Linked DNA regions of Homo sapiens. The protein of the gene in region 1 interacts with the protein of each later gene in a pairwise test. Each region holds a gene or a part of one and is shown on either strand. Other genes may lie near its edges.

Region 1 (7,867 bases):
CTTTGCATATATGTGACATACTAAAAAGGTTTTAAGTTAACAATGGAGGATCCTGAGTATCTTATTTGGGTATAAGAAATACTGCTCAGCCAGGCGTGGTGGCTCACGCCTGTAATCCCAGCAGTTTGGGAGGCAGACGCAGGCAGATCACCTGAGGTCAGGAGTTTGAGACCAGCCTGACCAATATGATGAAACCCCATCTCTACTAAAAATACAAAAATTAGCTGGGTGTGGTGGCATGTGCCTGTAATCCCAGCTACTCGGGAGGCTAAGACAGGAGAATCACTTGAACCCGGGAAGCAGAGGTTGCAGTGAGCCGAGATCACACCATTGCACTCCAGCCTGGGCAACAAGAGCAAAAAAACTCCGTCTCAAAAAGAAAAAAAAAAAAGGAATTCTGCTATGGGCCAGGAACGGTAGCTCATGCCTATAATCCCAGCACTTTGGGAGGCCAAAGTGGGCGGATCATCTGAGGTCAGGAGTTCACAACCAGCCTGGCCAACATGGTGAAACCCCGTCTCTACTAAAAATATTAAAATTAGCCAGGGATGGTGGTGTGCGCCTGTAATGCCAGCAACTGGGGAGGCTGAGGCAGGAGAATCACTTGAACCTGGGAGGTGGAGGCTGCAGTGAGCCGAGATAGCCCCACCGCACTCCAGCCTGGACAACAGAGCAAGACTCCATCTCAAAAACAAAAAACAAAAAAAAAAGGGAGCCTGTCTAGGGGCTAGGGGAGGGATAGCATTAGGAGAAATACTTAATGTAGGTGACGGGTTGATGGGTGCAGCAAATCACGATGGCACATGTATACCTATATAACAAAACTGCACGTTCTACACATGTACCCCAGAACTTACAGTATAATAAAAATAAATAAATAAATAAGAAATTCTGCTATGGGTGTTCGGAGCTGCTGAAAGAATGCAACAGGCAAGTGACAGCTTGTGCTTTAGGAAAATCACTCTGGCAGCAGTATGGAGGAGGGCTGGAATTAAAAGTACCCAAGTGATAGCAGCAGGAGGCAGACAAATCCTAGGCAGATGGGGGTGGGTCCCCAGTGAAACCTGACCTTCAAGCTGAAGACAGCTTAAAGCCTAGCTACATGTCCTGGATAAATCTATGGACCAGATCGAGAACCTCTCTTCCCATTTGGTGCACTTTCCTCTGATTGATCCCCACCCTTCACCTATTTTACATATACCCACCCTTCTCTAATTTGTTTTTTCACACTGTTGTGCCCACCTTTGAGTGGTGCCTTTGTTTTAGCCTATTTTGCATACTCACAAACCAATCAGCATGCACTTCCCCATTCTGAGCCCATAAAAGCCCCAGACCCAGCCATGCCAGAAGAGAGGCCAAACTACTTTGGGTGGGGGACCACCCTTGCGTCCCCTCTTGGCTGAGAATGAAAGGAGTTAGCCAGCTTGCTTTAGGCAGACAGTAAGGGAAGCGTCCCTGAAGAACCTACGACGTGCCCCAAAAGTGCTTACACCAGATGTTTTGTGCACATAAGGGAATTTGCACAGGGGGCTTGCCTAAACATGCCCACAATAGAAAATTCCATTCCCTAACACATGTGCAGTAAGGGAAATAACCAATATGGAGTAGCTCAGACTAAGGGCCCACGAGCACACTGGAAGGATGGGGTGGAGCCTCCAGAAATTTGCACCTTAAGCCCAGGTATTCAACTGTAAAGGGGGCAACCAGCAACCTGCTTTCAGGACCCCTTTCTTTACTGGGAGCTTTCCTTTCACTAAATAAATTCTACTCCACTCACTCTCCGGGGTCCACACACCTAATTCTTACTGATTGTGAGACAAAAACTCAGACCTAGCTGAGCTAAGAGCAAAAATCCTGCATCAAGAGCTGTTTTGTTGCTCAATAAAACTCTTCTCTGTCCTCCTCACCCTCCGATTGTTAGTGTAATCTCATTCTTGGACACAGGACAAGAGCTCAGGATGCCACCAAACATGGGTAGGAAGAAGAGAGTAACACGGTAGCTCTCTGCCCCACCAGCAGCGCCTGGTAGCCACCCTATGCAACAAGAAGCAGGGCGGGGGGCCAGGCCAGCCCCAGGGCCATGGGCGGGAGTGGGGTAACAGGACTGATAGGGCTGTTAACATGCCCCTGTTCGTCAGGCTGCAGAGGGCAGATCTAAAAGAGCTGTTAGCATGCTGTAACACCCACCTCTGGGGCTTCTGGGTTGCCTGACCCATTTGGTTACCACCACCTTCCCCTAGTCTGGACTCCAGAGCCCACTGTGGGAGTCACTTGTGACATGCCTGGTCCAGCCGCAAGCGGTGCACGGAGCCAGCTCCTGTGCCGGCACTTGGAGCAACCAGCTGGATACCACACAACTCTGCACTCACCAGCTCAGACACCCTCTCCTGCCAGGGGCTGAGCCCACAGTCAGGTGGCCACAGGATCCACACCTGCGTGCAAGCCAGGAGTGGCCCAGTGGGCCAGTTGTGCAGGGCACCTCCTGTGGCAAGCCCAGCCCGAGCAAGGCCTGGGTAGGTCTCCAGCTGCGGAGGTCTCCAGTGGCAAAGCAACGTCAAAAAAAAAAAATCCTGTGTCACAAGTAAGGCAGAAATTAAGAGACTACTTAATAATGTGATAAAAAATGGTGAGGCCCTAAATTACTTAGGTGAAATGAAGATGAGATGGATAAGAGTCTAAAGGACTTGGTTGTGGGTGAGGAACAGCAAGGCATCCAGGATGACTCTCCCTTGGTGACGACTTGGTGGTGAAATAAAGGCCACAAGAAAGAAGACAAACAAGTGGGGGCAAAGAGGAAAGAGAAATGAGAGAGTTGATGAATTCAATTCAGAAATGATTTGAATTTCATTTAAGCCAAAGAAAACCCAGTTATCTTTTCTGGGTTCCAGTTTTCTCAGTGACAGCTGCATTCATGAATTACCAAATTAACTATTGTAGCACTCTCTAAAAATATACAAAGCACTCTACCGTATGCTGTAAATAAGTCATGAAAAATCAGCAAAAGCTCGAGCCCTGAAGGAAATTCAGCAGGGTTAAAAAGAGATATGGCCAATGTTTACTAAACACTTAAACTGTGACCCAACACACTCACCCAGTACTGTAAGTACTCACTTAATGTCATCAACAGATTTTTGGAAACTGACTGTAAGCAAAATGACATATAACAAAACCATTTTTACCATAGGCCAATTGATATAAACAAAAGTTAAGTTCCTATAACATATTTCTGGTCACAAAAACATCACCAAACTCCTAAATACAAACCAAAACACTTCTAATATTAAACATTGAAATAAATGGGAGCTATACATACATTTAAGGAAGATTAATAAAAACAAGTAAGATAGTTATTTACCTAATTATTCCAGTTCAGGGTCGAGGGTGGCTGAAGCCTATCCCCTCAGCTCAGGGTGCAAGGTGGGAACCAACCCTTGGACACGACGACATTCCATCGCAGGGAGCACTCACACTCACACTCAGACAGGAAACACAGACAAGGCCAATTCATCCAGCCTGCACTGAGATGTGGGAGGCAGTACCCTGGGGTACCTGGTGAAAACCCATGCAGACGTGGGGAGAAGGGGCAAGATCCACACAAACAGTAGCCCCGGTAGGAAATTATTATTTTTTCTCATCAAGTTATACAAAATGACACTGAACGAAAAAATGCGATTCAAGGACCTGCTGTACTGTACTTTTTGCTCTGCCAGTCAGGTGCGATCGCTGGCTTTCTTTGAGCACCTATGAACAAGAGGTAGCATGCCCAAGTCCACGTGGGAGATACAGCGGCCCCACCCTTAAGGGACTTAGAGCATGGCGGTGGGACACATGTGGTGCAAGCTTGCTGAAAGTTTAGTGTGCTGGGAACTTTGAACATACAGGCAGGGCTAGTTAACAAAGTATATCTTTTACTTAGAGACATCGACGAGGAATATCTTAGGCCGTCCAATAAGAATGTAAGCATTTCATATTTTATTCCCTATAAAGAAAAAAGAATGGAGGCGAGAGGAAATGAAATGAAGCAATTATCGCAAAACCAGTCAGTGTCCCCGCAGGCCACCCAAGGACAAGCCTCCGGGAAAGAGTAACTCAATCCCAGTTTGGAGGGTGAAACTAAGAGTGAATGGGAAGCCAGCATCTTCCTAATACAAAAGCACAGTTTACCGTCCCCCTCAGCCAACATGCGGCTGAAGGGAAAGCCGCGGGGCGTACCTTTAGCACGGGACGCTGCTTTGGGGGGATCGCCCTCGACACAGCGCCCCTCCCGGCACCTGGCCAGAACCTCCCAGGGCGAAGGTCGGGGCCGAGAAGCTTGTGAGTACCGGGGCAGTGAGGGAGGGATCCCTAAGTGCAGGGCGCACACACGGGGCGGAGACCTGGAGGCGGCAGCACCGCGCCCCCAGGGCTCTGCCCAGCTAGCCACTCGCAGCACAGAGAAGCGCGCCCGCAAGACAGCGCAGCCTCCGCGGGCCGGAGGAGGCGGGGCCGCGGCAGGCAGAGGCAGGGCCGGGCAAGCCCTCGCTCCCCGCCGCCTGACGGGAATTGTAGTTCCTGGGAGAAGCCGGGCTGCCTCACGAGGCACTAGGAACTACATTTCCCGGTGAGAGAGCGGCTCCGGCCGGCCGCGCGGTACCGGAGCGTCGCACTGTCAGCGGCCAGAGAGCCTGGGGCAGATCGAAAAGGGAGTGCTTCTTCCCTTCTCTCCGCGCTCTGGCGGTGCAAGCGGCTCTGCTTTCCCTCGCCCCGCCGTCGGGTGCTCCCTGCCCGCCTCCCCGTGTCAGCTTTCCCTGGGCCCCGCCGGGAAAGTCTGGGCCTCGAAATTCGAAGGCAGCGGCGGCTGCCCAGCACGGGAGTGTGGGGCGCGCCACTCGGCGGCCCAGCCTACCCAGGGCCCGGCCCGCGCCTCCATGGGCCCGACCCGGAAGCCCAACGTGTGCAGCCGGCTGAGTCGCCGGGCGCTGGGCTGCTTCTCGCGCGACGCAGGCGTGGTGCAGAGGACCAACCTGGGCATCCTGCGGGCGCTGGTGTGCCAGGTGACCGCCAGCCGGCCGGGGCGGGACGGAGGGCCGCGGGCGCGCGGCGGCCGAGCCTCCTGCGGGGATGCGGTTTTAACGCGCTGGGGCCTCCCTTTATAGGGTCACATGTGATGGGGAGGAGGATACAAGCCCGGAATCTGGGATAGGTGGTAATAGGGCCACCAGCTGCTTTTAGTTTTACGCTTCTTATGTCTTACCTGGAAACAATTATTCTAAAAGTTGGTCACCTCATTAAGCCAAAACATGAGGGCAGAGTGGAGGAAGGATGCAAAAAGTTTTAAAATAATATAGGTGACATTATGTTGCTTTGAAAATTTAAAATCTAACTTAAAGCCTAAGAGTTCTTTCCTGAACGGAAATTCTTTATGTCTTTTAGGAAAGTACTAAATTTAAGAATGTCTGGACAACTCATTCCAGGTCACCTATAGCCTATGAGAGAGGAAGAATATATTTTGACAATTATCGGCGCTGTGTCAGCAGGTAACTTTTTATTGATAATTTTGCTGTAATTCACCTCACTGTTGATCTTAACTATAATTTGTATAGAACCACATGCCTACATTAGTGCCTAGTGAAATAGAATGAAAAAAATGGGTCCGAAATAAGACTAGGCAGTAAAAAATGCATGTAATTTTAAAATCTTGTTAAATCTAAAGTTGCAGGTGTCATTTTTGTAAATACCAACTTAAAGCAAAACTACAGTGCAGGCAAAACCACAGATTGTTCAGAGTACTGTTTAGTGTTTAGTCTACTTATACCACAGTCAAGAAATCCAGTTGCCAATCAAATAATTAGATGCTGCTTTGGAGAATTGATGGATTGTGTTTTGGAAGTACTTGCCTTTTTTTTTTTTTTTTAGAGAAATTTTTTCAAACAAAAGCCTAGTATTTAGAGATCCAAAATGTTTAACAGTCAGCCTCATCCACAACTGTCCAACATGAGGGGGGAAGGAAAGCCACAATGCATCCCCATATACTCATTACCCAGATTCAAAAACTATCAAGATTTGCCACATTTGCTTTATCTAACCCACTTTTCCTTTTGCATGACCTCTTTTAAAGCATATTCTAAACATACATCAGTTTGCATTTTTAAAAAAATGAGCTTTTTTTATAGGCTTTATTAGGATATAATTCACATACCATATATTTACCCATTTAAAGTGTACAGTTCAATAATATTTAATGCATTCACAGATACATGTAATCACTACCACAGTTAATTTTAGAGCATTTTCATCACTTCAAAACAGAACCATGTACCTTTAAGCAGTCACCTCAGTACCACCATTACCCTCAGCCCTAAGCAACCACTAGTCTGTTTTCTGTCTGTAGATTCACCTATTCTGTACTTTTCATATAAATGGAATCATATAATATATGGTCTTTTGTAACTGGCTTTTTCACTTTGCGTGTTTTCAAGGTTCATCCATGTTGTCACATGCATCAGAATTCCTTTATAAAGTTGAATAATATTGCATTGTATCAATTACCACATTTTACGTATCCGTTTATCAGTTGTTAGACATTGGTGTTTCTACCTTTTAGCTATTATAAATAATGCTGCTATAAACATTTCCATGTAAGTTTTTATGTGGGCATTTATTTTCACTTCTCCTAGATTATACCTAGGAATGGAATTGGTAGGTCATAAGATTATACTGTAACTGCGTTTAATAGTTAGAAGAACTGCCATACACTTTTCTAAAGTGGTAGTACCATTTTATGTTCCCATAAGCAGTATATGAGGGTTCTGATTTTTCCACATTCTTGTCAACACTTGATGTGTGACTCACAGCATCTCACTGTGGTTTTGATTCCATTTTCCTGATGACTAGTGATGTCAGGCATCTTTTCTTGTGCATATTAGCCATTTGTATGTTATTCTTTGGAGAAATGTTTGGTTAGATATTTTGCCCACTTGTAAATTTTTTTTTTTTTTTTTACAAAAATCCTTACATATTTTAGATACAAGTCCCTTATCAGATATATGATTTCAAATACTTTCTCCCATTGTGTAGATTGTCTTTTTACTTTCCTGATGTTATTGTTTGAAACAGAGAGGTTAATTTTTTTTTTTTTTTTTGAGACAGAGTTTTGCTCTTGTTGCCCAGGCTGGAGTGCAATGGCGTGATCTCGGCTCACTGCAGTCTCCACCTTCCGGGTTCAGGTGATTCTCCTGCCTCAGCCTCCCGAGTAGCTGGGACTACAGGCATGCGCCACCACGCCTGGCTAATTTTGTATTTTTGGTAGAGACCGGGTTTCTCCATGTTGGTCAGGCTGGTCTCGAACGCCCAGCTTCAGGTGATCCGGCCACCTCGGCCTCCCAAAGTGCTGGGATTACAGGCATGAGCCACCGCGTCCAGCCACAGAGAGGTTAATTTTGATGAAGTCCAATTTATCTAAATTTTTTTCATTACTCATGCTTTTGGTGCCATATCTAAGAATCCATTGCAAAATTTGAGGTCATTAAGATTTGCTCCTAGGTTTTTTTCTAAAGGGTTTATAGTTTTAGCTCATATTTAGGTGGTTGATCCACTTTGAGTTAATTTTAGTATAGGGTATAAGGTAGGTATCCAACTCCATTTTTTTTAACATGCAGCTATACATTTGTCCTAGCACCATTTATTAGAAAGACTTTTCTTTCTTCATTGCAAGGCCTTGCCACCCTTGTCAAAAATCAATTGACCATAGACACTTTTGGATTTATTTCCGGACGTTCAAGTCTGTTCCACTGATCTGTATGTCTGTCCTTATGTCAATACCACATTGTCTTGATCACTGCTGCTGTGTTATTTCTTCTTTAAATGCTTGGTGGAATTAACCATTGAA
Region 2 (7,404 bases), on another chromosome or scaffold:
CTGTGTACAATGGGCACCAGCTTGGGGGCGTCACTGTGCACAGCAAAGACCGGGTGAAATCTGCAGAGGCCATCCAGCTCACCTACTACCTGCAGTCAATCAACAGTCTCAATGACATGGTGGCTGAGAGGTGGGAGTCCAGCTTCTGCGACACTGTCAGACTGTTTCAGAAATCCAACAGCAAAGTCAAAATGTACCCTTACACGTCCTCCTCACTGAGGGAAGATTTCCAGAAGACCAGCCGCGTATCAGAACGTTACCTGGTCACCAGCCTGATTCTGGTGGTTACCATGGCCATCCTGTGTTGCTCTATGCAGGACTGCGTCCGCAGCAAACCCTGGCTAGGCCTGCTCGGATTGGTGACCATAAGCCTGGCCACTCTCACTGCAGCCGGGATCATCAATCTTACTGGTGGGAAATATAATTCCACCTTCCTGGGAGTCCCTTTCGTCATGCTAGGTAATTACTACTCTTCTTTCTTCTGTTTCCGCCTGCTGGTGGTGTTGACTAGGTTCCTAAAAGGCCAGGAGTAGCCTTCTAACAACTTTGTTTCATTTAACAGTATCTTCATTTTGCCCAAAAGTCCTGGGACCCACTCTATAAAGTGCTGGTAATCAGCAAAAAACAACCTAATCTGGTAAATGTGCCAGAAGTTCAAAGTCCTGGGTTCTAGCGCTGACTCTCCATTGAGCAGCCATGTGGTGTCTAGCAGGTATTAATCTTCTCCTTGTCCCAGTGTCTTAGGTTGGGCTTCCCCATAAGCAGGGCCCTGAGAAAAAGATTTGGATACAAGTAGTGTATTTGGGAGGTGAGCCCAGGAAGCACCAGTATGGGAGTGAGGAAGTGGAAGTTGAAGGCACTTCAGTTGAAGGCAGGCAGTTGAAGGTATGTTAATGAGCCCAAGATATATCACATTCTGCCGGTTGCTGTGGGCACCTGTGGTTCAGCCCCACAGGGGACCTTTGGGAGACCTTGTGAAACACACCTCAGAGAGGTCCTCCCCCGGGGTGAGGAATTTGGGCTATTTTCCCACAGACCCTTTGTGATTCATTGAGGGCTGCTCCCCAGGCCAGTTAACTGCCAGCACTTCCCAGGGAGGTGCTCCTGCAGCACACTCCTGCAGCCAGAGAAATCCTTCAGGTGACTTTGTAGTTATAAGCCTTCAGCAAGCTCAAGAATGGGGAATGGGAGGGCATGTTGGGTTGGCACTGAGAGCGCCTGCTACTCTCAGTTTCCCCACCTTATGAATAGAGTGGATGTGAGCATCACACAAAAGGACATGATAAATGTATAAGAACTTTGAAAGTGACATGTGAGATACCAGTAGGAAGTAACTTTTTTTCCTATTCTTACTATGAACTCAGGAGAATATTTTAAAGCGATGCTGATGGTGACAGCGTGCTTCCAGTGTGTCCACTCAGGGGGCTGCTGGAACTCCCTGATAGAGATTAATGGTCAAAACAAAGCCATAGTGGCCATAACATCGGTTGCCCTGTCCATCTGTTATCGAAAATGGCATGCCCAGCAAGCCTGATGGCAGGGTTCTTGCGGGCCAAGGATTCAAGAGGTTCACTTTCCCCCTTTTCTATGGTAGCTTCTCATCAATTCCTTTAACAAAATTAAAATGTCATTTGGAATCAGATACTCACATGACAAATGAAGTGGCATTTTTTGGTTAACTAAGAAATAACCACTGTTGAGGTCATTAGCGTGCCTTATGCCCTGTTTTAGAGTAGTGGAAGAGAATTTCCTCAGGAAATCTCCGCTGTGTTGTGAGCACACGATAAGCGGGGCTGGTGGGGCTGCAAAGCCACAGAATTACATTCTGCCCTCGATTCTCTGTGGCCCGAGGAATTGAAACCTAGTCAATAAACATATACTAGTAGCTTTTGTGAAGAGCTGGGCACTGTAAGGAGACCGAGCAGCCTGATAATTTGATAATGTACTTGTCACTGCTGAAAACAACAGAGAAGAAGGCTGCCGTACCTCCTCCTGAATTCGGTCTATTAAGAAAGCAGCATAACCTGCCGCTTTAAAATCACCCCAAGACCGTGTGGGTTGACTGTGGAATACAGAGTGGTTCCTTGAAGAGTGAGTAGGACTGAGTATTAGTAGCTTCCACAGAGGCTTGTATCAAGGTTGAAATTAAGATGTTTTGCTCATGATTAGTCACAATCTTGAATGTTTTGGGGGTTACGGGAAGGGTTTTCGTTTCGTTTCATTTTTTAGCTTTTCATTTTCTTGCTGCTTTTGTGGGAGGAAGAGAAATAGGAATAAGAAAAGAGTGGGGAACTGAAGGGAGATCGTAAGGTTCTCAAGGTGAGGCAAAAGGACGCCGGAGCTAGAAAAAGGACAATCAGTGCTGATTTTATGACATTCCAGGTTGTTACCAGTGAGCTCAAAGCATGTTAGAATATTTAAAACTTGTGAAAAGTTAATTTACTAAGTAAAATAAAATTATAATATTTAAAGTTTCTTCAAATTAATTTTAAGTAAACTAAAATAGCAGTATTCAAAACTTCGTTTCACTAAAAAATGAAATTGTAATATTCAAAACTTCTTAAAGTTAGTTTTATAAAGTAAACTGCAATATTTTAAATTTCTTAAAACTTACTTTTTTGTACTTTTTAAAGAGGTTTTAAATATTGTAAGGCAAAGTCAACACAAAACAGACCATGGCAGATAGTATTGGTGCAGGGAAGGATGTAAGAGATGGTAGGATGGAAAGATGCTGTTAGCAGGGAAATGTCTTTAAAAAACAAATCCAGAAATAGTAATGCCACAGATCCACAAAGACTGAGTATCACTGAACTTTACATCACAGTTCAATTCAGAAAAAATCTAGCATTTGCAGCGAAAGAGACCACGCACCACAGGTGCCCAATAAGCCCTTGTTTGCAATTTCTGAGGAATGTTACGTGCATTGATTTGATGGCAGTTTTCCCTGCTGACAATCAGTGTGCAACCTTTCTGTACATTCTCAGCCCAAAGAGTTCTCAAATTACTTAGTCATAACATGAAAGGAAGCTACATGTTTTAATAGCTAAGGCCCATTTACAATAAACACTTTGCACGATGTAATGGGTGCTTAATATGCTCATAAAGCTAACAGTGCCTGGATTTAGGATGGTCGCCCTCCTGTATTTCTCAGATAAACTCTTCATTTTTAAGAGTTTATAAAATGAAATATAAGCAAGAACAGCTTCATAAATGTTGCATTCAAGGCCATCGTTTAATTCTGGGGTTTTTGGATGACCAGTCCTAAAATGCCAGTAAATATTTCAAATGACCAAGAAGAAATGCAGTGCTAAGAGTTTTGGCACTACAGTAAACTGTCCAGTGTTTAAATTTTCCTGTGTATAACTTAAAATGGCTATGCTTAACCTAAGCAGATTTAAGCAAAACTTGATTTAGTATGTTATATAAATACAATATCAAATCAAAAAGTATATAGCCTCATTTAAAAGGTAAAGTATCTTAGAAAAAGTCTCAAACATGGACATTTCCTTGGCTATCAATAGGTCTATACTGTGATAAACATTATAGATTTAAAATTCAACAAACTGAACATTGTCAGTGTGATTCTGGTCACATAGGCCAAATCCAGCCAAATGCCAAAATGACACTAGATTTAGAATGGAAAATTTTAAGATCACATGTGTCAAGCAGTATTAACCTGACAAAATTCCAGAAGAGGAAAGAATTTGGATAAACTCTTAAGAGTTCACCATAATGGGATGTGACTGTGTGTTTCTAGCCAAGATGATATGTGACAGTTCTGGCAATAAGAATATATCCTACACAGATGAATCATTTTGGCAATGATGTAAGCATAGATACATCATGATTTAGAATGTTTTTAATCAGTGTTGTGCATACTAGACAATCCCACTTCTGCCAAAACCTCTGTCCAGATGAGTCATATCAGTTTATTTAGAGCTGAAATCCTAAAAGGTCTACAGCGTTATAAATGTTCATCGACATTTTTTAGTTACTCTAATTTGGAGAAGAGTTTATTTGGTCTATACCCTTATCGTGCATAAAATAATAACCCTTTCCAAATATATTGATATCAAGTAGTGAGTTACTTGAATTGCTACTTGTGAATATATGATGCTAATTATTTTAATCTGTGATGGAATTTCCTTTAAAGGATGAAGATTTACACCATTATTCTCCAGTTGGGTATGATTTTTAAAATTAGCATAGGTTTTCTGTGTGCAAGCTCTCCTTACAGGCTTAATGTTTCAACAGCTTTGCTGATCAGATACAAATCAGGAAAGGGATAGAATGTTAGATGATGTAGAAGGGAACCAAAAGAAAGTTTTCTCCCTTCTGCATCTGGAAGGTTTGTTGCTTCATGTACATCCTGTACAGCTAAAAAGGAGAATTGAAGTCGTAGTGAAAGAGTTCGGATATTAGTTTCTACATGCAATCTAGTTTATAAAGGTTGCTTTGCATTTATCAAGATACAAGAGCCCCAGAGATTTATGAGATAAAAAATACTCTTTAAGCCCTTTTTCAAATGTTTGGGATTTTGAGGTCAGATGTCAGATCCAGGGTGTTCTCTTCCTTTTGAATTATCCAACCAGGCCACTCAGATTCAAGGACGTGAAAGGAAGAAAGAATTAGTGGATTATTTCTAATTTGCGGATTAGTGCTAGGAAAAGAATAATAGCAGGGAAGTTTGGCTTCTTTTAGCTGTGCATTTTAACATTATTCATATGTAGCAGAAACCAGAAGATTGGGTTCCATTCTCCAAGAATTTGCTCTCATATGATGCCACTTGAAATATAATGCAGTATATGGAGCTCATAAAAAGGGAAGGAAAAAAAATTCTCATGCAAAACATTTAGTTCCAACTGAAACATTGAAATTCTTATTTTTTCTCTAAACTTAAGCAAACCTGAAAGAATTTGCTTTCCTGATGAGTATTCTGATACATTTCAAAAGTCATGAGAAAATGAGGGAAAAATCAGTCAGATAATAATAAAATTTAAACCATATGAAATTGCAAATATCCAACCATTTTTGGCCTACAAACTTGGTACCATTATCTGGTCATTTTTGAGCTACAAAAATGGTAATTTTGTGTGGTTCAGCCTAACACATTATTGTAGAAATCCATTATTTGCAACAATATGACAATTTTGCCTGATGGAGTAGAAGTATATTAGAATGCTATGGAAAGACTTTGCTTAGATATAAATCAGTAATAGGTTCAGCATGTTCTAGAGAAAACAACTGATTTATGAGGGTTTTGTTGTTCACATTTTTGTGTACATCTATTTTTTTAAAAGAGATCATTTATTTTACAGTATTTCCAAAGTTTGTCTCTCGAATATCGTTTTTTGTAATGGTCCATGGTCATTATGGGACTAATTTACAAGGAGATTATGTAATTTAGGCTTGTAATTCGTTCTTGCCCTTTTATTCTTATGCTCCACCAATCATATTAGGGTGAGAGTAGGTGGAAATAAATAGGTTTAGGGGAATGGAACAAAACAAGTTTTATTGTTCTATTTTTAACCATAAAGTAAGACAGGAACAGGACTTGGGGGCACAAGTCCAGGAAAGCAGAACTCAGTCAGAGGAATACAAAGGGGCTTTGTCTTTGACCCAGGATTCCCAGATATCCCCTGGGTGGTCTGTCTACCCGGTCGTGCCCAGGGAATGAGGGAGTGACAGACCCTGTAAAGGTTGGGCAGCAAGAGGCAACATCAGGACACTGAACTAAACATAGACCCTGGGGAGAAATACCTAGTATCTACATTTGGACTAAACTCTCAGAAAGTCACAGCTGGGCAGTCTTGACCAGATGGATATACAGAAGCTCACAACCGAAACAGGTTCACAGTTATTGTCAAGGAAACCCTGCATTTCACCAAGGCTACTTTATTACTCAAGAACCAAAATATAGACAGATGGAGCCCAACAGAGGGATTCTATAGCCCCTTCTCTACACTGATTGGTGTAGCAACACTAACATTATTTTGCCTCATCAGTAAAATAAATTTCACATCAGCCTACTATTCATCTTGTGTGTATGTGTGTCTTTATAGCCTATGTGCATAATATATATTATATATCACATTAGCTGTATTATATATCATATGCAATATGATATGTAGTAAGCTCATGTTATGTATTTATATGTATACAATGTGTTTATAACATATATTATGTAATATATATTGCTTGAATATTTAAATAGAAGCTATTCTCTGTGTATACTATCTGGTATATAGGAGTCCAACATTTTGTATGTAAATATATAAAATATATTTGAATAGGATATGCCATATATACATATGTTTATATATCACATTTGTATTCTATACGAAAAGAAATTAAGCAATGACCATAGCATATATTATGGGCCACATTTATACTTATACACACTGGTCTTATATAATGTACATACACACAATATCTAAATACTTTAAACAAGGAAGAGCTATAAGCAAATTCATTTCTAGGGCTCTCTTTTACAGCTATCTAGTGAAGAAAAATCATTCCTAAGACTAAAACCCAATGCTCTGGTTAGAATTTTCAAAATGTGACAAGTCTCTAGTACAAAGAATAAGATGTGTGTGTTCCCCCTGATGTGAGCATCTGTCTTTACTTAAACAGAGTACACCTTTATTCTTACTCTTAACTCTGAGACAAAACAGGCTGCAATAAACCAAACAATTCAGCTTGTAAAGTAAATGTTTATAACTGGCAAAGTGTAAATGTAACCCAATTAATAAACTTCTCCCTGAAAATAGATGTTACTCAACCCAGACATATATACACTTTAAATTTCTTCTCAAAAACACAAAAATCATGAATTTATGTGGATGACATTGAAAAACAGGCATCTTATAAACATGAGCTACTTAGTGAAGCTTTTCTAAGAATAAAATAGGCTTTAAGCAGATTTTGCTTATGGATTATAGTCTCTGAATTTTTGAGACGAATGTAGTAATTTTATTTCCATATATGAAATTTGGCACTGCCCAGGCATGCTATAAACAGCTTCATTGACTCATGATATTAAATGTTTTCACACTGAAACTGAAAGATCATCCATCAATCAGCAAGCCATCCCATTTCCTCCTTCTTAGCCATTCCTTACTTTGAGGAACTCAGGATGAGGAAATCCTGCTAGTGTGGAGAGGTTTAAAATGTGAGTAGCACCCAGCGGCATCTCTCAGCTGCTGTGTTGTGGCTATGTATACTGGGACAGGCGCGAAAATCTGGGACTGAAGAAAAATCTGACTTACAAAATCCAGAAGTATTATACAAAGTAGATCAATTTGCCTACGATTATTCATTGAAAACCAAACAACAACAAAAAAATCACCCAGACTGTCTCCAATAGCAAAACCACTAAATACATTTAAAATATTATTCACTTTA

What was found.
Region 2: the proteins of DCAF17 (region 1) and PTCHD1 interact in a two-hybrid assay, tested with the Homo sapiens proteins (one study listed by BioGRID and IntAct).

What each region holds. Positions count from the first base shown.
Region 1 is NC_000002.12:171,429,671-171,437,537, forward strand, and holds the start of DCAF17 (DDB1- and CUL4-associated factor 17), read left to right. Parts: upstream 1-4,555; 5' UTR 4,556-4,907; coding exon 4,908-5,033; exon of another isoform or gene 5,034-5,102; intron 5,103-5,105; exon of another isoform or gene 5,106-5,327; intron 5,328-5,412; coding exon 5,413-5,516; intron 5,517-7,867. Other genes in the region: METTL8 (tRNA N(3)-cytidine methyltransferase METTL8, mitochondrial isoform 2 precursor), read right to left, coding at 5,004-5,011. UniProt on the Homo sapiens protein: May function as a substrate receptor for CUL4-DDB1 E3 ubiquitin-protein ligase complex.
Region 2 is NC_000023.11:23,379,793-23,387,196, forward strand, and holds part of PTCHD1 (patched domain-containing protein 1), read left to right. Parts: coding exon 1-459; intron 460-7,404. UniProt on the Homo sapiens protein: Required for the development and function of the thalamic reticular nucleus (TRN), a part of the thalamus that is critical for thalamocortical transmission, generation of sleep rhythms, sensorimotor processing and attention. Can bind cholesterol in vitro.